Linked DNA regions of Homo sapiens. The protein of the gene in region 1 purifies or fractionates together with the protein of each later gene. This does not show direct contact. Each region holds a gene or a part of one and is shown on either strand. Other genes may lie near its edges. The genes, in order: ATP13A3 and AGPAT3.

Region 1 (11,494 bases):
GAGATGGGGTCTCACTCTGTCACCCAGGCTGGAAGACAGTGGCACCGTCACAGCTGACCACAACCTCAACTCCTCAGCTCAAGGGATGCTCCCTTGAGCAGGAAGGGGCTGCAGGCCTGAGCCACCACACCTAACTAATTCCCCCAATTCCCCCATAAAGATGAGGTCTCTTCATCTTGCCAGGCTGGTCTCAAACACCTGGGCTCAAGGGATCCTCCCACCTTGGCCTTCCAAGCAGCTGGAAATAGGAGTATGTTAAAATAAGCAGAAAAGAAATCGTGTGGCATGGGCACTTAATATAATAGAAATTGACAAATCAAGAGTTTCAATAACAGCTTGTGTAAACAAACCAAATGATAAATAAGCCTAATTCCCCCAAACTAAAAATTATACTTTTTAGTTCAGAGTTAAGGTAAAGTTTTTGTTGAGTAATATGTAAATTAATGTCTTCCATTATAATGCAAATTAACAACTATTCATTTGAAACTGTAATGCTATTAATAAAAATCTCAAATAACTGCTGACATTTCAGTCATCAAATTAAAGATGGTCTCTGAAATTTAAACATTCATGAATTCTCATTTTACCATAGCTAAAATCAAGACACTGCTTAGATACAACCTTACAGCTGCTGCCGGCAAGTGGCTGCTGTGATGCGGTGCTCACTGCACACTCATGCTTCACACTGGCCACACCGCTCAGACTATGGTCATGCCAGCTAAGTAACGTGCACTGTTGCTAAGACTATGTTGAGTTTAAATTACTAATTAAAGTATTCAAAAAGATTACACTGTAGTTGCATAATACAACAAAAAGTAACGTTCTGCATAGAAAGATACTGAAATAGCGCAGCACGGTGGAGAGGAAAAGCTAGGATGAGAAAAAGGGGATGCTAGGGAATAATATAGGAATAGGGAAGAGTAGAGAAGAAAAAAAGAAGAGTGGAAGAAAATTTTCCAGAGGTTATACCTCCAAGTCTTCAGTGTGTTAAAAACATATAAACCTCAGAAATGTTTGTTTTTTCTTACTGATAGCAAACCTAAAAATAATTTTTTTCATTACTTCTGTATGGTTCACTTCAGAATTACTGTGCAATTTGAAACAAAGCAAAATTAGTTTTCCTCATGATCTACATACACTACAGAATGATTCATATTTCACTCTTCCAGATTCTGATTTGAAAAATCCAACCACAAAGAAGCACAAAATCACTAGGAAGCTATTCTGTACAAAAAGTAAAATCCTGCAAATGTATAAATGTAACTCATAGGTACTTGGGTCAACTTTAAGTTACATGAATTTGGGTTTTTCTACTTGAGTCCTTTGTCTAATCTGAAACCTACCCACGCTAACCCAGCATAGACAATGCAAAGGCCGTAACATTTACATTCAACAAATACTTCAAAAATACAGTAATATAAGTTGCTATTGAAGAAGTTAATCACCTTATTCACAGCACAACCATCATAAAAATGTTAACTTTCTAACCTCCTATGACTGTCCTGTATGCCACTATCCAGGATTTAAAAAAAACCACATACACACACACACGCACACAGACACACCCCACAATCAATGTATTTAGGCACTATAACAACCACAATAGTGACGCCTGTATGGGAATATTTAGTTTACACAACACTTTGATGGGCATTATCTACTCTTACTTACCAGAATACTGCCTTTCAAAACCAGGAAAAAATCATCTTCACTTAACCAAGATTAGTATTTTTCATTTTCACCAGAAAGTCAAGCATGGGGTGACTTTACATCAAAAAGCCTTACCAACAAATTTAAGGAATGACACGTAGGCAGCACCATCTTTCAAGGAACAAAATTCATTTAAAAACCAATTCTTACTCCACATGTACTTGAAATGCATTTCTCCATAAGGAAAATAGTGTCTAGATTCCTAAGATAGCCCACAAATGCCCATTTTACCTCTTACAACTCTGCTGAGCTGCAGTTCACATTACACTAGCCTGGGTTGCTGGGCAGGTAGCCAGGTTACCAAGCCTCCATTTCCTCTGCCCGCTTCTTAATTTTCCTATTAATATTCCTCAGGCTCTTCTCTTTGTAACAATCTCATCAGGGGTGGCACTACTGGACCATCGCGATGGCAACTACCAATTCACATTTTCAGCACTAATCTCTCATGTGCTTCAGACCCACAGATTCAACTACATGTTTGCAGACAGCTAACACTCAATAGGTTCATTTTCTCTTTCTTCCAAAAAATCTGCCCCACCACCCAGCCACCACCAATTCCCCCTACTCCTTTAATGAGTATGAGTTGCCTAAAAAGCCAAGCCAGGAATTTAGAAGTCACCTTCGAACTCTTCCTATCTCACACCTACATCCAACCGGCCACTCATCTTTTGACTACCCTTCTCAAATCCACCTCACCATGCCTATCTCCATCAGCTTTGCCTTGATTCAGGTCCTGAGCCCTCGTCTCCCTCATTCAAGTCTGTATGCAGCCAGATATGACCATTTCCCTCTCTACATAAAACTTCAGTAGCTTCCCGTTGTCTGTAGTAGCAATTCCCAAACTGGTAAAAGAGTACCTTCAAAGTAAGTTGTTGTTTTTTTTTTTTTTCAAAACAATTAAATTGAACTAGATTAAATAATATTAAGCAGGCCTCTCACTAGCAAAGTTTTGAAGTCTTACAACGCACAACATGATGTATTTCCCTGCCATGAGGAACTGGGGCGGAAGGGAGCCTCAACTGGGTTCCAAGGTCAAAGTCAAAACTGATTGCAAGACATGTAAGATCCTACAGACTCTGGCCCCGCCTAGTTGTCAACACCATCTGCCATTCATCAGTGGTTATCACTCGCCCCTTACAAACCTTACATGTCATTCATTTAGAACACAATCTGTAGTTCTTCAAAGAGCCCTACTGTTCCCTGACTCCACTTCTTTATATAGAATATTCCTTCTGCCAAGAATGCCCTTCTCTTAGTCTGGCTAAAGAGCTCCTACTTGCTCTTCCAGGACCAGCTCAAGCTACTAAGCTTTGATTGTCCCTTCCATCTCCTAGCAGAGGACTGCCCCCACCTTTCTCCCACCTCTGCAGGTATCAGAGCACTTTTCCAACAACGTTGAACTTATAGACTAAAAACCTTAAAGGCTGGGAACCAGGCAAGCATCCAGCAGTGCAGCTGAATAAAGGAGACAGGGCAAGACTGGGTGAAGGAGGGGTGGAATCCCTCTTCTTTTTGTGGGCAAAATTTGACAACAAAGTAATTTTGTCTTTGGCATGCTCCCGCATCTCATCCCTATTCCCCTTTCCCAGCTCTCCCAATATCCTGTGTTCCCAGGTCCCTTAGTGACCTCATGGAACTCTACACAACCTCCACCACAGCACTATGTTCTTCAGATCAACCCTTCCTCTTCCTCTTAATCAGGATCCTTCTGTTCAGAAGTTAACACATAAATTAGTGACAGCTTCTCATAGCTGTTAACCTAAGATGAATCACTAAGAAACAAAATTTTAAAAGAAGTATGGAGAGGATATGGGGAGTGGACACTCTATCGCACAGAAAGACTGGCCCAGAAGCATCTAGGAGTCTCTTCCTGACTGGGCCCCCCAGAAGTGTTTCCACCTCACTTCATCCACTCCTACAGATTAGCTGCAGTGAGTGCTACAGGTAGAGACAGAGCTGGGGCAGACACTACCATCCTACAGATCATCCATTCTTCTTGGGTTGAATACCTCTGTGTCTTTGTTTTAGTTTGAGACCACTTATGGTTAATTCTTCAGCAGACAGAAAGTTCTCACCAACATGTTCACCAATGAACTTAAAACAGTGTCTTCACTCTAGCCAAGCAGTTCCCTGAAATCTAACCCCAAACTACTGCTTGACTAGAAAAAGGTAAATTAAATCAGAAAACCAAGATGTTGTCAAGTATCCTAATTTTTCAGATAAATCTGTAAATATTAAATTAGCATTCTAGCAATAATCATTCTGGTTTATTGCCAATTTGATTTCATAAAAACTCATTTGTTAGAATGGTATTGCCTACCATGTGCCAACTAGTGGTCTAAATGCTGGAGGTTACAAGATTAAATTTCTAACCTTAAGGAACCACATCTAGTAGGCTAGACAAATAAGTAAGCAAACAAATATCAAACAAAATGGTGACCAATGGCACCAGGGAGAAAGAGAGAACCAAGAACAGAAAAGACTTCAAAAAAGAACTATCTCTTGATCTAAGACCAGAAGGATGTAAACTTGATCAAGCAAACAAGCAGTAAGAGGAAAAATGTTAGGGAGAAAATAGAGAGATGAAACCCAAGCAGGGGAACTGCCACATGCAGAGGTACTATAGTGAGAGATCCTAAAAAATGCCAGGAAAACAAGTTATTTAAACTGACTGGTGCACGGGGTGATAGCCTTTGAGGAATAATTACAAATGGAGGTTTAGAAGGATAGGACAGGATCAGATTATAAGGAAGGGTCTTGTTAGACATGATAAACAATACAGATTATCTTGTAGGTGATGGAGATTCTGAACTTTTGTCACCTGAAAGAGATCCTAGGCCAGGCCAAGGAGCCATATTCCTGAAGAATACAACGTGAATGGTATCCTCTGGACTTGTGCAATGCAACAGCACAGTGTTTACCTGCTGGACTGTGTATGTGTAAGAGAGAAGAACTCATTCATCGATGTCTCCCCAGCATCCAGCCCTGTGTTTGGCATGTACAGGAACTAAAACACTATTAAATAGTTAGAAGTACCAACACAGTCCTAAAGGCATAACCAAGAGGCCCTAACCAAGCCCCCTTCCTTGCTACCTATAAAATCACAACTCTTATACACTACAATAACTTATCATTGCCACAACTATTAAGGGAACATGAAGAATAGTGAGTCACTATGGGCCGCACCAGAGATTAGAAAGGATTGGGGCGGGGGGTACTCTTTAAGATGCTTCTGAATCTGACTAAATTAATGAGCTTATTCTATTCTCTTCATCAAACACTGAACAGAAAACCATGGGTTAGCTTAAAATTATTCTTCAACTAACTCTAAGGCAGTGCTGACAATTATGAAAAGTACATTTTCATATCAAAAAGACCCATTAAATATTTCAATTAAGCGTGTGCTAGGTTAGTCTAGTCTTTCAAGTAAGTGCTACAGACAAAATTATGTCATTTGCCTATTGTACTTTACATTTTACTTAGTATACTAATCTACTTATTATAATTAGCATTAAATAGGTTTCTATCTTTTGTGCTTAGGAAAATTAGAAACATAAACATTAAAAAAAGGAGAAACAAGGAAACTACAGATGAAAATTGTAAATGAGCTTAGAAAACTGGTGACTTAAGAAGCTAAGGCATGATCTAGAGATGAATGAAAAATCTTTGGTCTAAAAAAATAAAGTAAAATAAAATAAAATTTAAAAAAAAGAAAAATCTTCGGTCTATAAGGAACCAGTGACTAGGATTCCATGTTTAAAGAAATCTAAAGGTCACAAAATTGAAATATAATTCAAAGTCTTCTTTAAAAAAAAAGTAGAAATATTTGACTAATCAGAATTTTTAAATGAAAATAATGCATATAAAGTCCTATAAAATAAATACAATTACAGATAGTTTTAAATTTTATAAGGTGGTCAGAGACAGAGACATTGGGTAACAGTAACAAGATGGGAGAGAAAACAGACTGCAAACACACCAGAGACACAAAGAGAAAAACTAAAATATACATAAAATGTATATCGGAGATACATGAGGTTAACATCTTGAGCTTTTGAGGATGTTGCTACTAAAGATACAAAATCATAGATTGTTTTGGACATAAAAAGCCTGAATATAACATTATTGCCTGCTGTTCCAGTTAACAAAAAAACAAAGAGCAATCATCAATCACACCCCACACACACATCTGACTTGTTTTGAATATCTTCAATGTTACTAAGTTAACAAATAATAAGTTACCCTTCACTCAGACTCTTATCCTTACAATTCTCTAAGGTACCCTTTATCACCTCTATCTGGCAAATAAAAAAGCTCTCAGAGGTTCAGTGACTTACTTAACCCAGACTACAAGACTGGTATGTGACAGAGCTGTAATTCAAAATCACTATGGCTCTGAAGCCCACATTTTTATCCAATACACCATGCCCTCTCCCAGGACATAAGACTGTTAAGTTTTTAGCCACCATCATGTTTTTACATACTCATGTTTTCTTACTGTGCTATCCCCAGAGTAATACTTAAGTTTAGATACTTTAAATTTCATGGAATCCATTAATAATTTACATCGCTCTTTTAAAACAATGCAGATCTTGCTAGCAGTAAGGAATAAATTTATTCTTTAAAAAAACAAAACAAAAACACTCAAAGTAGTTGAGTATCCCCTCAGAATGACAGACAGTACCAATAATCTCCTAATATTCTCAACTTTATTACCTAGCCTTTTAATTATACTAGATCTTTTTGTGGCATAACCTTACGGAGATAGCAGATGTTCATAAATACCTAAGTTATTTCTCCATTATTCACACTGTGGAGTCACATCATATATGCACTTAATTAAAACCAATTCAACTACTTACACTCTGGGGGGAAGCAACAGAGAAAAATAATTTGAATAATGATGATAGTATGCCTTCCTTTACATCCCTGTCCCAGAGTGAGCATGAAATGAAGACTATAAATCCGCTATGCTCAGTCAATCTAAGACCCATTCACCTGTCAAAACGGTCTCACACAGCTGGTGAGGATTCCAGCTCACCAAAAAAGGGACCTCTCTAAAACTACAGGAAAAACTGGACACTAGAATTGAAAGACAGAATGTCAGTTTCCAACCAGTTTTCAAACTGGTGCCTTTTTAAAAGACTTTTTCCAAGGGTAATTTTGACTACACAGGATTTTTATCTGAGAATTTAGGCCCAAAGGCCCCATGAGCAGTGATTGCACTTTATTCAGCTCTTTAGATCAATCAGAAAAAAATCAGGACCCAAAACACTTGTCTTTTATATCAAAATAAATAACTAAAATATATTTCATCCTATTTCACAAATGGAAAAAAAAAAAAACAGAGCAACAGGGATGCTATGAAGAAACCACCCTTAGACACATATGTGGGAGCAATTCCATGACTCATTTTAAACAAACTAAAAATAGTTTGTTTCAAGAAGTCTGTCAAGCAAGCAAAGGCAACCCTTAAAAGTTGGCTCTCACTGGAAAAAAAAAATGCAAAAGTTTTGAGATGTGCCATTACTACAGAGTACAAAATTAAAGCAAGGGTGAAAGGAACACCCAAGCTAGAGAAAGGATCTGGGGTTAGACCATAAAGGATCCTTTATGCTGTCACTTACTTCACTTTCCTCTTCTCTAAAAAGGCACTAATCTAAATAATCCATGATCTCTCCGCATTATTTTCCAGTCTCACACCTCTTTATTTCAATGTTCAACTCCTTTGTGAAAAAAAAATAAGAAAAACTCACTGAGCTAGAACCATCTTTCACCTTACCACCCAACATCAGTTACAAGTATTTTTACTTCAAACTTGAGAAAGATTCTGTAGACATCAGCAATTTCCAGACCACATAATTAGGAAATTCTACTTTACATACTTAAGTGACTTTTTCTGGAAATTTAATTTCTTATCTAACTAGTCTCTGAGTGTCAATTGATCATTTAAAACCAAGATCCACAGGGAGTAAGTGTAAGAATCAACAAAAAAGACAAAATTCTGATTAACAGATTAATTTTGCGGTCTTGACGTTTACTATTCGAGTTAATGTTTTACCATCTCAGACTCTAGCAAAGGTTCCAATATGACCCTGTGGGTCTAAGATGTTAACAGATATGGTATTGGCATAGTTCCCTCTAGAGAATCATTTTATGGAAACTTTTCAGCAATCACCATCCTCAAACAACCTTCCTCAGTGTCAGACACTTATTTGGACAGTTCTCTCCTTTATTCCGTTTTTCTCCCTTCTTACTGATTACCATAAAGTCATTTTTTAAACTATCATAACAGTGATCATTTTTTCCAATTACCATTTACTCATGTCATCTCATTTTACCTCTATTTTTAACCTGATTAATACAAATTATTTTTGGTTGTTTTAAGACAAAGTCTTGCTTTGTCACTCAGGCTGGTCTCAAACTCCTGGCCTCAAGCCATCCTCCTGCCTTGGCCTCCCAAAGCACTGGGATTTCAAGCATGAGTCACTGTGCATAACCTACTAACACAAATCGTTTTAACTCCTTTTATAATCACTAGTTATCTAGTGATAACTGATTAACTGTGGACCTTCTTCTACCTTACAAATATCTACTTTTCTCCAGATTAATTTGAGCCCAGAACTTTTTCATTTTTTTAAACCTAAATCTTAATTAAAATTATGTGCCAGAAATCTGAGCCTCTCTTACTTCTCTACTCTCAAAATATGATGTTCAACAAAACTCAAACGAGAACCTAACAATTTCCTTGCTTCTTGCATGCTATTTGAACTTAAGTGGTTAATTAGAACATGGTTTTGGCTGGGCAAGGTGGCTCATGTCTGTAATTCCTACACTTTGGGAGGCTGAGGCAGGAGGATCACTTGAGGCCAGGAGTTCTGAGACAAGCCTGGGCAACAAACCGAGATACTCATCTCTACAAAAAAATTTTAAAGGCCGGGCGTGGTGGCTCACGCCTGTAATCCCAGCAGTCTGGAAGGCCGAGGCAGGCGGATCACAAGGTCAGGAGTTCAAGATCAGACTGGTCAACATGGTGAAACCCAGTCTCTACTAAAGATACAAAAAATTAGCCAGGCATGGTGGTGGGCACCTGTAATCCCAGCTACTCGGAAAGCTGAGGCAGGAGAATCGCTTGAACCCAGGAGGCGGAAGTTGCAGTGAGCGGAGATCGCGCCTCTGCACTCCAGCCAGGATGACAGTACAAGACTCCGTCTCAAAAAAAAAAAAAAAATTTTTTTTTAAATTAGCCAGACATGATGGCACACACCCGTTGTCCCAACTACCCTTGTTGCTGAGGCAGGAAGGTCGCCTGAGCCCAGGAACTCAAGGCTGCAGTGAGCCATGATCGTGCCACTACACTCTAGCCTGAGTGAGAGAGCGAGACTCTTTCTCTGGGGGGAAAAAAAAAGAAAAAAGGACGGGGTGCAGTGATAAATGCCTGTAACCCTAACACTTTGGGAGGCCAAGGCAGGCAGACTGCTTCAGTTCAGGAGTTTGAGACCAGCCTGGGCAACACGGTGAAAACCCACCTCTACAAAAAAAAAAAAAACTAGCTGGGTGTGATGGTGCACACCTGTGGTCCCAGCTACTCTGGAAGCTGAGGTGGGAGGACTGCTTGAGCCCAGAAGGTCAAGGCTGCAGTGAGCCATGACAGAGCCACTGCACTCCAGCCTGGGAGACAGAGCAAGACCCTATCTCAAAAAAACTCAACATGGTTTTGACGACTACAGATTTACTCTCTCCATAGGCCAATTAGCTTCATTTTCACAAAAACTATGTTCCAAAACCAAGGCTAAATCCCATCAGCTACCTCTTGGATCCAGATGAGATATGGCATATTCAGAATACATTCAGAGGTAACACCAAGAAGAAATTTAATTTCTAATTTCTTCTGGCTACTCCAGGCACACTGCCTATCGAGCAGCCCTGTTCTGCAAGAAGCAGTATTAAAAAATGTTTTTAAAACTTTAAAAAATAAGAAATGTGATTCTAAGGAGGGAGAGAGAAGGGAGAAAAGGATGAGTACAACATATCTAAGAGTTAAACTGAGCTATATTTGAATGGATGATAAATGGAATAGGAGTTGGCAGCTTATCACCTATCAAAGAAAACAGTCAAAACAGTTCACAGTTGTGTGCTAAAAGAAGGTGATCTAGTGTGTGACACCTATTAAGATGACATATCTGATTTATCACCAGAATCTGAGGTTCAGAGATGTTATGTTGCCTAGTCACATACAACTAACCTTATAAACCCAGAGACAGAAACCTCTGTGTTAAGCACATTAACACAGAGCTAGGTTTCTGTCTGTCTTCAAAGTCGCTTATACTGTAAGCTCCTTAACTTCTTTAATTTTTTTTTTAACAAAGAAGAATATTGTTACCTGAAAGTGTTGAGGATTAGTTGAGACCATATGTAAAGAAAGGAGCACTTTTCCTGGCACATAATGGTTTCTTTCCTTCTTCCATTCCATATATTGAATCAAACTATGCTTGTATAACGTGGTGGTTTTGTAACTACTGTGAATATGAGGTTTTAGAATATGAATATGCTTTATTCCTAAGATAAATAGTAATCTTAGGACATAGGCACTATATCATATTACTATGGATATACAACCTACTCAATGGTCAAACTCAGTGAGAATAAGCAGTGATGGGGACGCCCTATGGAACTTTATCTTTATTCTGTCTTTTTTCTCAGTCTCAGTGATGTTGGAAATAAGAACTTTATACTTGTGAATGACAACAAAGTGGTTTATAATCTCGAAAATCTTGAAGACAGAAATAGGATTTCAAAATGAGCTCGATAATGTGGTTTATCCAAAGCGGATTCTGTGTGTTGTATATTTGGTGACCTAAACTAACTATGTAAGTATCAACCGCCAAGCTCGGTGGCTAGCGCCTGTAATACCAGCACTTTGGGAGGCCTAGGCAGGAAGATCACCTGAAGTCAGTAGTTCACGACCAGCCTGGCCAACGTGGTGAAACCCTGTCTCTACTAAAAATACAAAAAATTAGCTGGGCGTGGTGGCACACACCTGAAATCCCAGCTACTTAGGAGGCTGCGACAGGAGAATCGCTGAAACCCAGGAGGCAGAAGTTACAGTGAGCCGAGTTCACACCACTGCACTCCAGCCTGGGCAACAGAGCAAGATGCCATCTCAAAAAAAAAAAAAAAAATTTAAAGCAACCAAATAGTGTCACTTTTCCTACCCAATCCCCTGACCAAAGCCAGGCATTGTTGTTCTAACAAGGCTCAAAATCTCAATTATTTCACTCTCTGCCTGATCTAATGGTAGGATAATGCAAATCAAAGATACCAGCAAAAGTTATGTTCTACAACAATCATTAATAATAGGTTTACTACTTCGAACAACTTCCAAGCACTGATTTGCCTTAAAGGGGTTGCAAACCAGGATGAGATGCCCACACACATTGATTTTTGGCAACTGTAGTCTATTAAGCAAAGCAACAAACCTCTAGAGAAAATAATGTCACATATATTCCAGTGAAACAAAATTAATACATGTACCTTGGTAAAGAGGCTGAGCTCTAACCAAAGATAGAGCACTGTTCATTACGTACTCACCCTTCAAAGGAATCAAATCGAAACACTTTCATTTTAACAACGATACTTTTTAAAGGCTTTATTTTGCAATAATCTTTCAAGTCCCTGCATTTCTTAGATTCCTTAAATTCTAACTTCCTGCCTCATAGATCTAAAGTAGCCATGACATACCCAGGTATGTTCTACTCATTTAGTTAGAATCGTATAGAGGAAC
Region 2 (11,494 bases), on another chromosome or scaffold:
GCGGTCCCTTTTCACAGCTGAAATAAAATACTGTACAGCATCAATTGTGCTTTATACGGTATTCACAGGAGATGAAGCTTTACTCAGTCTTAGCATGTTGGATTTTTTTTTTTTTTTTTTTTTTTTTTGAGATAGAGTCTCACTCTGTTGTAGGCTGGAGTGCAGTGGCACAATCTCAGCGCACTGCAACCTCCACCTCCTGGGTTCAGGCAATTTTCATGTCTCAGCCTTCTGAGAAGCTGGGATTACAGGCACGCACTGCCACACCCAGCTAGTTTTTGTATTTTTAGTAGAGACAGGGTTTTGCTATGTTGGTCAGGCTGGTCTCGAACTCCTGACCTCGAGTGATCAGCCTGCCTCAGCCTCCCAAAGTGCTGGGATTACAGGCATGAGACACTGCAGCCAGTGGCATGTTGAATTTCAAAACTAGAAGACAAGCCAAGCGTGGTGGCTCACACCTGTAATCCTAGCACTTTAGGACCCGAGGTGGGCAGGTTGCTTGAGGCAAGGAGTTTGAGACCAGCCTGGCCAATATGGTGAAACCTCATCTCTACAAAAATTACAAAAATTAGCTAGGTGTGGTGGCGTGCAACTTCAATCCCAGCTACTCCAGAAGCTGAGGCACAAGAATCGCTTGAACCCGGGAGGTGGAGGTTGCAATGAGCCAAGATCGAGATTGCACCACTGCACTCCCGTCTGGGCAACAGAGTAAAACTCTGTGTCCAAAAAAAAAAAAAAAGACAAATGGAAATAAAAAACTATTAAACATCTACAACAGTGTCATTCTTTCAAATACTACTGGTGTGAGTAGAAACAGACGTGATCTTTGCAGAGGGTAAATCAGCAACAACGTGTCTAACGTCTTTGAAATGGCAAGACCCTTTACTCAGCAATCCACCTGTAGACTTTACCTTCAAGACATTGACTAGAGAAGAACTGTACAAGGATGCCCATCATATTTATAACTGGGAAAACGGAGCGGCATCAGTGTCCATTGACAGGGCTGGCCACAGCTGGCTGTGTCCACACAGCGGAGCCCAGTGCAGCCCTCCCTCGAGGGGGCAAATGGGAAGGTCAGCAGTGCAATGTGAACTGAAGCGGGCAGGCCGCAGAGACAGAGCCACGACGTGACTCCGTTGTGCATTAAGTGTGTGTGTGTATCTAACTCACACTCAGGATAGGAGCAGGCCACCTCGGCAAAGTGACATCCAGGTCGAAGTCACCAGGCAAAAGGAGAAAGTGTGTTCCAGGCAGGCTAAAGTCCAAGGCAGAGTGTGGCCAGTGGGGCAGCTTGAAGACCGGGTGTGGGGGTGCAGAGCGTGAGGTCGGGGGACACTGACATCAGCAGGCGTCATCACGGGTGGGGGCTGAGCAAGCAGTGGCGGGGAAAGCGCAGGGCCACTGAAAGGCTGCCTCTTGTTCTGTGGGGAACAAGTGTGATGGGATCTGAGCTGGAGCGACCCCACGCAAGACCACGGGCAGTCTCAGTCGAAAGCGAGGCTGGTGGTGGGGCAGGAGGCGGGCAAGGGGAATCGTGAGGGTCAAGGAGCCATAGATGGGGAAGGGGGTGTGGGAGATGGAGGAAGGGGGTCATAGATGGGGCCCAGGTTTCTGTCCTGGACACCAGTGGAGACAGAAGATAGAGGGGACAAGATGGTGATACCAGAACAACGATGGGAATGGGCCTGCTGGGAAGATATCCTCAGCCAGATCCCAAGAATAGCACCATTTCAGCCAGGCGCAGTGGCTCATGCCTGTAATCCCAGCACTTTGGAAAGCCAAGGCGGGCGGATCACCCGAGGTCGGGAGTTCAAGGCCAGCCTGACCAACAAGGAGAAACCCCGTCTCTATTAAAAATACAAAAAAATAGCAGGGCATGGTGGTGCATGCCTGTAATCCCGGCTACTCAGGAAGCTGAGGCAGGAGAATCACTTGAACCCGGGGGGCGGAAGTTGTGGTGAGCCAACATGGCACCATTGTACTCCAGACTGGGCAACAAGAGTGAATCTCAAAAAGAAAAAAAAAAGAATAGCACCATTTCAGGTGCTTCCTAGTCTTTTCCTTCACATTTATTTTCTACTTTTGAAACCTCACATGCCCTTTAACTATTACTGGCATATGCCATGTATATGTACAGCAGTTCTTCAGCTACCGAATACAAGTCATCTGAAGAAAGCCAATTGAAATGGCAACCTAGTCTGCCTGTGCTAAAGCAGCAGAAAGCATCTCAGGTGGGATGGGTGACAGGGAAGTCGACAAAAGGTTAAGTTTATAAGGACAAAATCTGAGTCACATTTTGCAATTGTTAAAACTGGTGGGCTGGGCATGGTGGCTCACACCTGTAATCCCAGCACTTCGGGAGGCCAAGGCAAGCGGATCCCCTGAGCTCAGGAGTTCAAGACCACCCTGGGTAACATGGTCAAATCCCATCTCTGCTAAAATACAAAAAATTAGCTGGGCGTGATGGCATGCACCTGTAGTCCCAGCTACTCAGGAGACTGAGGCACAAGAATCACTTGAGCCCTGGAGGCGGAGGTTGCAGTAAGCCAAGATCGTACCACTGCACTCCAGCTTGGGCAACAGAGTGAGACTTTGTCTCAAAAAAAAACAAATAAAACAAACAAAAAACAAAACAAAACAAAACAAAAACTGGTGAAAAGCATTTGATAATGACGTGCTCAGTGGGGAGGCTTCCCAGCTTTAAACACCCTGGAAATTACACGTTGTCCTCCACCAGGTAGTTTTAGAGTGAGAAAAAATTTCCCCCCAGACAGCCTGGTCATTTTGGTATATCTAATCTGTGACATTCCTTCTACTGTTCATTACGGTTTCACTCATCAGGATTTATGTAGATCCACCTCCACCATCAGCAATTTCTTCAATCTCAGATTTCTGCTGTAGGATCACTTTCCATCTAAGTCAATTATGTCTTTAGACATCCCCTTTGTGAGCCCAGGAAATCAGCCTAAAGTAATTCTAGATCAGTCCCACTCCTGGACTCCTGGTAGGAGCAGGGCTTCTCCAGGGAGGCTTTGCTCCCTTCAAGCCTTGCAGGAATCCACAGACAAAGCCCATGTGAAATGAGCCCACAATCCAAAATCACAAAGTGTGTGACAGGCAAGGATCAGGGAGCAAGAGGTAGCAGAACAAGTGGCGGAGTCCAACCCTCAAGAAATTCAAATTTTAGTATTTGTTAATATTATTATCGGTATTACTTTGGTATTATTAGTTACAGTATAGAAAATAAGTATGTTTAGACATAAAGAGAAAATAAAAATAAGTGTAAGGAAAAGAATACCAAACAAGAGGAGAGGCAAACTTGGAAAAAAACAAAGAGAACTTTCAGGAATGAAAAATATAACTATTAAAAAAATGAAAATTAAAAGAACAGGTTAGGCTGGGCATGGTGCCTGTAATCCCAGCACTTGGGAGGCTGAGGTGAGAGGATCACTTGACCTTGGGAGTTCAAGACCAGCCCTGGCAACATAGCAAGACCCCATCTCTACCAACAAAAAAAAAGAAAAAAGAAAAAGAACAACAATAACAGGTTAAATATTAATAGCGCAGAGGCTGGGCACGGTGGCTCACACCTGTAATCCCAGCACTTTGCGAGGCCAAGCCAGGTGGATCACCTGAGGTCAGGAATTTGAGACCAGCCTGGCCAAATGGGTGAAACCCCGTCTCTACTAGAAATACAAAAATTAGCCGGGCATGGTGGTGGGCACCTGTAATCCCAGCTACTCTTCAGGCTGAGGCAGGAGAATCACTTGAACCCAAGAGGCGGAGGTTGCAGTGAGCCAAGATTGCACCACTGCACTCCAGCCTGGGCAACAGAGCAAGACTCCATCTCAAAAAAAATGTATACCTATTTAAATAGCACAGTAGATGGAGATGAAGATAGAGTTGCTAAATTGGAAGACAGCTGAAGAAATAACCTGGAATGAAGCATAAAAAGACTGAAAGGTAAAAACATGAACGAGAGTTTAAGTGGCTGGGAGGATGGTATGAGAAAGCAAAGCATAAGGCAGATGCTGTATGGTTGACCCTCCATATCTAGGGGTTCCACATTTGTGGATTCAACCAACTGTGGATCAAAGATATTTGGGTGGAAAAATTCCTAAAAGCAAAACTTGAATTTGCTGCTCTCTACTATATTAAATCCACATTAATGAAGTTATATATAGGCATTGTATTAGATACTATAAGTAATCTAAAGATGATTTAAAAATACACGGGAGGGAGGCCGAGGAGGGCAGATCATGAGGTCAGAGTTCAAAACCAGCCTGGCCAATATGGTGAAACCCCTTCTCTACTAAAAATACAAAAATTACCCCAGGCGTGGTGGTGGGCGCCTGTAATTCCAGTTACTCAGGAGGCTGAGGCTGGAGAATTGCTTGAACCTGGGAGGCGGAGGTTACAGTGAGCCAAGATCGTGCCACTGCACTCCAGCTTGGGCGACTGAGTGAGACTCCATCTCAAAAACAAAGAAAAAAATACATATATGGGAGAATGTGCACAGGTTATATACAAATACGACACCATTTTATATCAGGAACTTAAGCATCCACTAATTTTGGTATCCATGGTGGGTTCTGGAACCAATCCCTAGTGGATACCGCAGAATGACTGTATTGAACAAAATAATGGCTGAAAATTTTCCAGAATTGCTGAAAGACATGATACTTTATCTTCAGAAAGTACAATGAATCCAAAACAGGATAAACAAAAAGAAATCCATGCTAGAAAGACCACAGTCAAGTTGAAAAACACCAGAAATAAAGAGACTATAAAAGCAGCCAGACAAAAAGCTTACTACTGACACAGGAAGGACAATTGAAATGACAGCTGGCTTCCTAACCGCAACTTTATAAGCCAGAAGATACATAATAGAATTCAATCCTTAAAGAAATGCCAGAGACTCAGTGCTATACAGACTATATCCCTCTGCCCATGAGGCTTTTCAGCTGAAATCATAATAAAAACAACCTAAAATCCTCAATGCCTTTGGACATAAATGCATTCATGGGTCATGGAAGAATAATAAAATTGTAAAATGCTGAACAATGAAAATATTACATATCAAAATAAACAAGACGACAGTACAGCAGAACTAAGTAGGAAAGCTACATAGACTTAAATGCTTATGACAGGACCGGGCGTGGTGGCTCATGCCTGTAATCCCAGCACTCGGGGAAGCCGAGGTGGGCGGATTGCCTGAGGTCAGGAGTTCAAGACCAGCCTGGCCAACATGGTGAAACCCTGTCTCTACTAAAAATACAATAGTTAGCCAGGCATGGTGGCACACGCCTATAATCCCAGCTACTCAGGTGGCTGAGGCAGGAGAACCACTTGAATCCGGGAGGCGGAGGTTGCAGTGAGCCGAGATCACGCCAGCCTGCGTGACAGAGGGAGACTCTGTCTCAAAAAATAATAATAAAATACTTATGACAGAAAGTTGAAAATTAAGAAACTAAGCTTAGAGAAAATAGAAAAGAAAATGTTTCAATTCAGTAACCTAGAAAGAGAACACCAGAATAAACCCAAAGAGTGTAGAAGGAAATCCTGACAATGAGCAGAAATTAGTGATACGGAAACAAAGACACAGTGGAGAAAATGAGTAAGACTGATAGCTGGTTCTTTGTGAACACTAATAAAAAAGATGAGCCTCTGTGAGATGAATCTAGAAAAGAAAGGTAAAACCATTTTAGGAATGAAAAGGGTGATTTACTGTCAGATATAGTAGAGATTTAAAAATTAAGAAAATATTCTGACCTTTGTATCAAGAAACTGACAACTTGGGCTGGGCGCAGTGGCTCACGCCTGTAATCCCAGCATTTTAGAAGGCCAAGGTGGGAGGATCACCTGAGGTCAGGAGTTCGAGACCAGCCTGGCCAACATGGTGAAACCCCGTCTCTACTGAAAATGCAAAAATTAGCCAGGCGTGGTGGTGCGCGCCTGTAATCCCAGCTACTCGGGAGGCTGAGGCAGGAGAATCGCTTGAACCCGGGAGGCAGAGGATGCAGAAGCCCTGTGTTCTCCTTCCAGGTACTAGAGCCGGAGTCCTCAGGGCACATGGGTTTTGCTGGTGCGCGTGCTTTACCTTGATGAAGTCAGGTGCTGCATACACTTCTGCGGCTCACTCCTTCCACCCAGCGTTATCCTCCGGAGGCGCACACATGTTGCGGCCTGGAGGAGCTCCTTCCTTCCCCTTTCCATGGCGAATGTAGCACGAGGTTATTTTTCATTTTATTTGGAGACAGGCATTGAGAGAGCTCCCGGGGTCTGACTCCAACACCCATGCCACTATGAGCACCTCAGCATGTCCCCCGGGAAGCACACGGCAGGTGCACCCGCCACTCGATGCCATCTCCCTGCAGCTCCTGCCATTCCCAAAGCAGCCACGCTGGCACCAGTGCTCTGTCTGCCCCCACATCTTCTCCAGCACTTGTCCCCACAGTCTTTTAAGTTTCGCCGTCCCGGCAGGGGGAGGCCGCAGCTCTCTGTGGTTTTGTTTCTGCGTCTTCCCGGTGACCCATGACAGTGGATCTTCCATCTCTCCAGCTCCTTGCTTTTGGGTCACTTTGTTTGTATTTCTCACACCAGGCCTCCTCTGCTTCAAGGAGGCAGAGTGGGACGATTCAGAACTAAACGGCCACTGTTTGTACCCACACCGGAAGGCAGCATGGTAGAAGCATTTCCCTAAAATCAGGAACAGGACAAGGATGGCCTGTCACACTTCCATACAGCCCTGCTCAGGAGGGCCTGGCCCAGGCAGCAAAACAGGAAGGAAAAATACGAAAGATATAAGGAAGAAACAGAGTCTTCACCACTCCCACATGACGTGAATGTCTACTGAGAAAATCCCCAAAATCTACAAATAAATTTTAAGCAATGGCAAGGTGATCAGCTGTTAAATCAATACCCAAAAGTCAACTGCATTTCTACAGAACACCAGCAAAGACTTAGAAATCAATAAAAATAAAAAACACCATTTACGGCCGGCGCGGTGGCTCACGCCTGTAATTCCAACACTTTGGGAGGCCGAGGTGGGTGGATCACTTGAGGTCAGGAGTTCGAGACCAGCCTGGCCAACATGGTGAAACCCTGTCTCTACTAAAAATACAAAAATTAGCTAGGCATGGTGGCGTATGCCTGTAATCTCAGCTACTCGGGAGGCTGAAGCAGGAAAATCACTTGAACCCGGGAGGCAGAGGTTGCAGTGAACTGAGATCCTGCCACTGCACTCCAGCCTGGGTGACAGAGCAAGATTTTGTCTCAAAAGAAAAAAAAAAAAAAACACCATTTACAAAAGCAAGAACAATAATAAGGGCACCTGGGAATAAATGTAAGCACAGAGTGTCAGGTGGAATGTGAAATACCACGGTGCTTTATCAAAAGACACCTCGGAAGACCTGCACAGTCAACTCTAGAGAGATAAAGGGCTTAAGCAGAGAAAGCAAACTTTACAACTTCTACAGAAAAATACAGAATACATTTGTGACCCAAGAATTGGGAAGAACTTAAAGTAACATGCAAAAGGCACTACCTAGAAAAGAAGGATGGATAAAATTATACATTACATTAAAACTATCTTTTCACCAAAACAAAAAAAGTGAAAAGATAAAACCCAACTGGGAAAAATATATAATGCACACATTACAGCCAAAGATGAACATCCTGAATCTATAAGGAAATATATAATATGGAAACTATATATAAGGAATAGGTGAGAAAAAGACATCACCCAAAAGAAAAATGGATGAAGCACATGAACAGGAACTTCACAGGGAAGGACACACATAACCAATAAATATGCAGGATGCTCACTTTCATCCAGCAGGCAGGCGTAAATCAAGACCACAACTGCACAACACTTTGCATCTACCAGCTTTGCGAAAATCAACAGCAATGCCAAGTGCTGACGGGTATGTGGATCACGTGTGTCCAGAGACATGGACATAGAACATTCCATGTAAACAGGTCAAGATTAGAAGTGCTTCTGGTAAATGTATGGATGCATTCTGAAAACATTATTTTTTGCAGGCTTTATCTTTGCATAGATCTTACGGGAGGGTCTCCCGTAGGCCCTTAAAGACACGTGGAGTTACGTTGTTTTTCCAATTGATGCTTATTCTCTTAGTACCATCTTCTCCTTTCCTCTAAGCATCATCAGAGAACGCTGTTTCCAGCAGCCATCCCTGAGACAGAGGCAATGATTCTTTTGGTTTCATCTGCACATAAATTCTTGGGATTTTTCCCCCTCTCTTCCTGCATTTTGGAAATGCGTGTTTTGTCCTCATTTAATTAGTTCAGTTACTTTGTTTCAAGAAATAAATACTGTAGCCCAGAGACTGTAAAAACAGTAGCCCCAGTTGAATTCAGTTGGCAACATTTGTAATTTGGCGTGTGCAGTTTGTTAAAAATAAATACATTGCATATAAAACTCCAGATACCTGGTTTCTCTCGGAAGACTAAAGATGGAGTCACTCTGGTCCTATACCCACCTGGCCCTGCTCAGCTGGGGGTCAGTAGCGGGTGGTCAGGTGAGCCAGACCCTGTGAAAGAGGCCTCAGTCTCTCACTCATGTTCACCACAGCCACCCCTTCATAGGCCTCATGTCTGCATTCTCACTTACCTTCCTAGCTGGACCCTGTCAGAATCTGTGTTTACGATTTTCCTGTATAGCTTTGTTCACCAAAAAGAAACATTATATACTGAATAATTCACTAACATTTATTTATTTGTTTATTTATTGAGATGGAGTCTGGCTCTGTCACCCAGGCTGGAGTGCAGTGGCACGATCTCAGCTCACTGCAAGGTCCGCCTCCCAGGTTCAAGGCATTCTCCTTCCTCAGTGTCCCGAGTAGCTGGGACCTATGCATGCGCCACCACACCTGGTTAATTTTTGGGTTTTTTTTTTTTTTTAAGTAGAGATGGGGTTTCATCATGTTGGCCAGTCTGGTCTCGAACTCCTGACCTCAAGTGATCCACGTGCCTCAGCCTCCCAAAGTGCTGGCATTACAGGTGTGAACCACCACCCGGGGACCCAATAATTCACTAACATTTAAAGAAAAGAAGTAAAAGTTACAAAGGCTTTGGGGCTCCAGGAAAATGCAATGCTAGCCTGGAGCTGGAACTGAACTGCACGACAAACATATTTTCTAACCAATGTTCTAGAACTTAAGTCATAGTAATAAGCTCCTGATTTAGAAAACTGAAAATAACCTGTGTGCACTGAAACACGTGTGTCCTGATCGCTGTAGTGCATTTGAAAATTCCCAGAACACCAGCACTTCGCCTCCCTGCACCAGCTCACTGCCAGCCACGGCAGGGAGTCCAAGGAGGACGGCTGTGGTTCGCTTCCTAAAACTAATCCAAAATCCCGCCCGCCCGTGCCGCATAATGAGTCACAGTTGGGATTGTCTTTACTGTTCCTTTTGTTTTTGTGGATTATCAAAAGTCACTAAACTTAGCCACGTGTGGTGGCAGCACCTGTAGTCCCAGTTACTGGGGAGGCCAAGGTGGGAGGATCGCTTGAGCCCAATAGTTTGAGTCCAGCCTGGGCAACACAGTGAGGCCCCACCTCTAAAATACATGCATAAAATTTTAAGTCCCTAAACTTTGTTTCTGAGGCCGCCATGGAGCTCTGCCAGAGAAAGCCGCTTCAAGGTGACAGGTGAGGAGACAGGTGAGCCACAGCCTCCTTGCTGAGACACCTTCGGGACCCCTTCAGGGGTAATGACCAAAGCGGGTACTCACGCAGGGCCACCCTGGGGGTCCACTTGGCACTGGGCTGGCTGTGCCTAACTCAGGGCTGGGTCTGAGGCTCCTCCTCCCCAGCACTGCTCCCTCCGCCTCCTCTCACGGGGGTCAGACCTGCCTGGAGGTCTGGTGCTCCCCCACCATCCTCTGCAGGGTTTCTTCCTGCACTTCCCATCTCATCGTGGCACCTGCTTCCCAAACTGACAAGTGCATAACCCAAACTGACGCGGTCTTCCTCTAACAATCTGACTTCTGTCTATTTTGGCAAAAATCAATGCTAGTACACCATATTTTACAAAGTATAACAACTGGTTAATTTCTCAATGCAAAAATTATGTGTAGCTCCCTAATAAAATGCACATTTGTTCACTCAATCAATCACTCCAATTAGACTAGGACAATGGCCTAAATCAGAAATCAATCTATGAAAAGCTTAACCCAATCATCAGCACATTCTTCACATGAGGAGTCAATAAACAGCTCTTCATTTTACTCCCACCAAGTGTACCGTAAAAAGCTGAGCATAGATGAATTTACGTCAATTGAATTAATTTTCTTCTTGATTCCATATCCAGCATGTATCTGTTTCTATCAATTCAGATGGAGATTTCAGAGCCCCCAGTCCAGCAAGTACGGCCTTCTACAAGTGAAAAGTGTTTAAATGAATACGTGTATGTGAAGCCAATGACTTAGTCTCCGTTTCAGAAATGTAGATTTTCATCTATTGGATCTTATGAGCATCAAGGTGGTTTGGTGGAAAGAATAACAGCTTTGGATTCTATTGGACCTTTGTTTAAATCTAGATTTGCCCAAGCTGAGACGCTGGCCACACTTCCCCACTCAGTTTCCCATGTCAGTGTCTCTGTCAGTTTCTGTGTGATGGGGCAATACCACTCTCCTTACAGGGATGTAGAGGAGCTTATAAAATAATAAGGTAAGCATGTCATAAAGCAGGTGACAGATTTAGTGTCAGGTCAGCTAATAGGACATGAGGAAGAGAACAAGAGCCAGCGTGGCTGCAGCGCCGGTACTCAGCTCCCAGCACCTGGCTGAGAATCAGGAGGGCAGACAGTCAGGGGTGAGTAATCGATCTCAGGACAGGTATTTCCTTGTACAGCTTGTTACTGCTGCTCATTTTATAATTCATCATTATTGTTATTTATTATGCATTTCATTCTCTACCCGCTTTCAGAAAGGAATCGAGACCATCTCCAACAATGATGCATAGCCTTCCCAGTCACTGGGGACAGGCCTCTGGGCTGCAGGCACACTGTCCCACCAAGAGCACCCAGCTCCACTTTGAGTCTTAAGTGACACAGGGCACGCTAGCCAGGAGGTAGATTTCTGCCAGTCACACACTGAAGGATAGTTGTGTTGCTTTCAATTCACCACCAGTAACATTTAAAACATATCCTATCTGCAATCCTTCTACCTAGGCTTGGGAAAAGACGTGGCCAATTTAACCCCAGCATCCATGCACCCTAATAGCCAGGTACAGACTTTGGCCCTGCAGAAAGAATGGCCAACTTTCACCATCAACTCGGCCTTCCCGCCTCCAAAACTAAACACAGACACTGCCCCAAGGTTATGAGACTGCCTGTCTCCTGCACTTTGCTTGACAAAGATAATCAAAACATGGCCGCTTGTAAATGACTACATGAAAGCCTGTCAGAAGGTGAACGATTAATGCACTTGCCTAAAATGCAGCGCTTTGAAATTGGTAATTTAGAAT

What was found.
Region 2: the proteins of ATP13A3 (region 1) and AGPAT3 purify together in Homo sapiens (co-immunoprecipitation; 2 studies listed by BioGRID and IntAct, with this or other methods). This does not show direct contact.

What each region holds. Positions count from the first base shown.
Region 1 is NC_000003.12:194,474,182-194,485,675, forward strand, and holds part of ATP13A3 (polyamine-transporting ATPase 13A3), read right to left. Parts: intron 8,918-11,494; exon of another isoform or gene 8,801-8,917; intron 1-8,800. UniProt on the Homo sapiens protein: ATP-driven pump involved in endocytosis-dependent polyamine transport. Uses ATP as an energy source to transfer polyamine precursor putrescine from the endosomal compartment to the cytosol.
Region 2 is NC_000021.9:43,867,982-43,879,475, reverse strand, and holds part of AGPAT3 (1-acyl-sn-glycerol-3-phosphate acyltransferase gamma), read right to left. Parts: intron 1-11,494. UniProt on the Homo sapiens protein: Converts 1-acyl-sn-glycerol-3-phosphate (lysophosphatidic acid or LPA) into 1,2-diacyl-sn-glycerol-3-phosphate (phosphatidic acid or PA) by incorporating an acyl moiety at the sn-2 position of the glycerol backbone.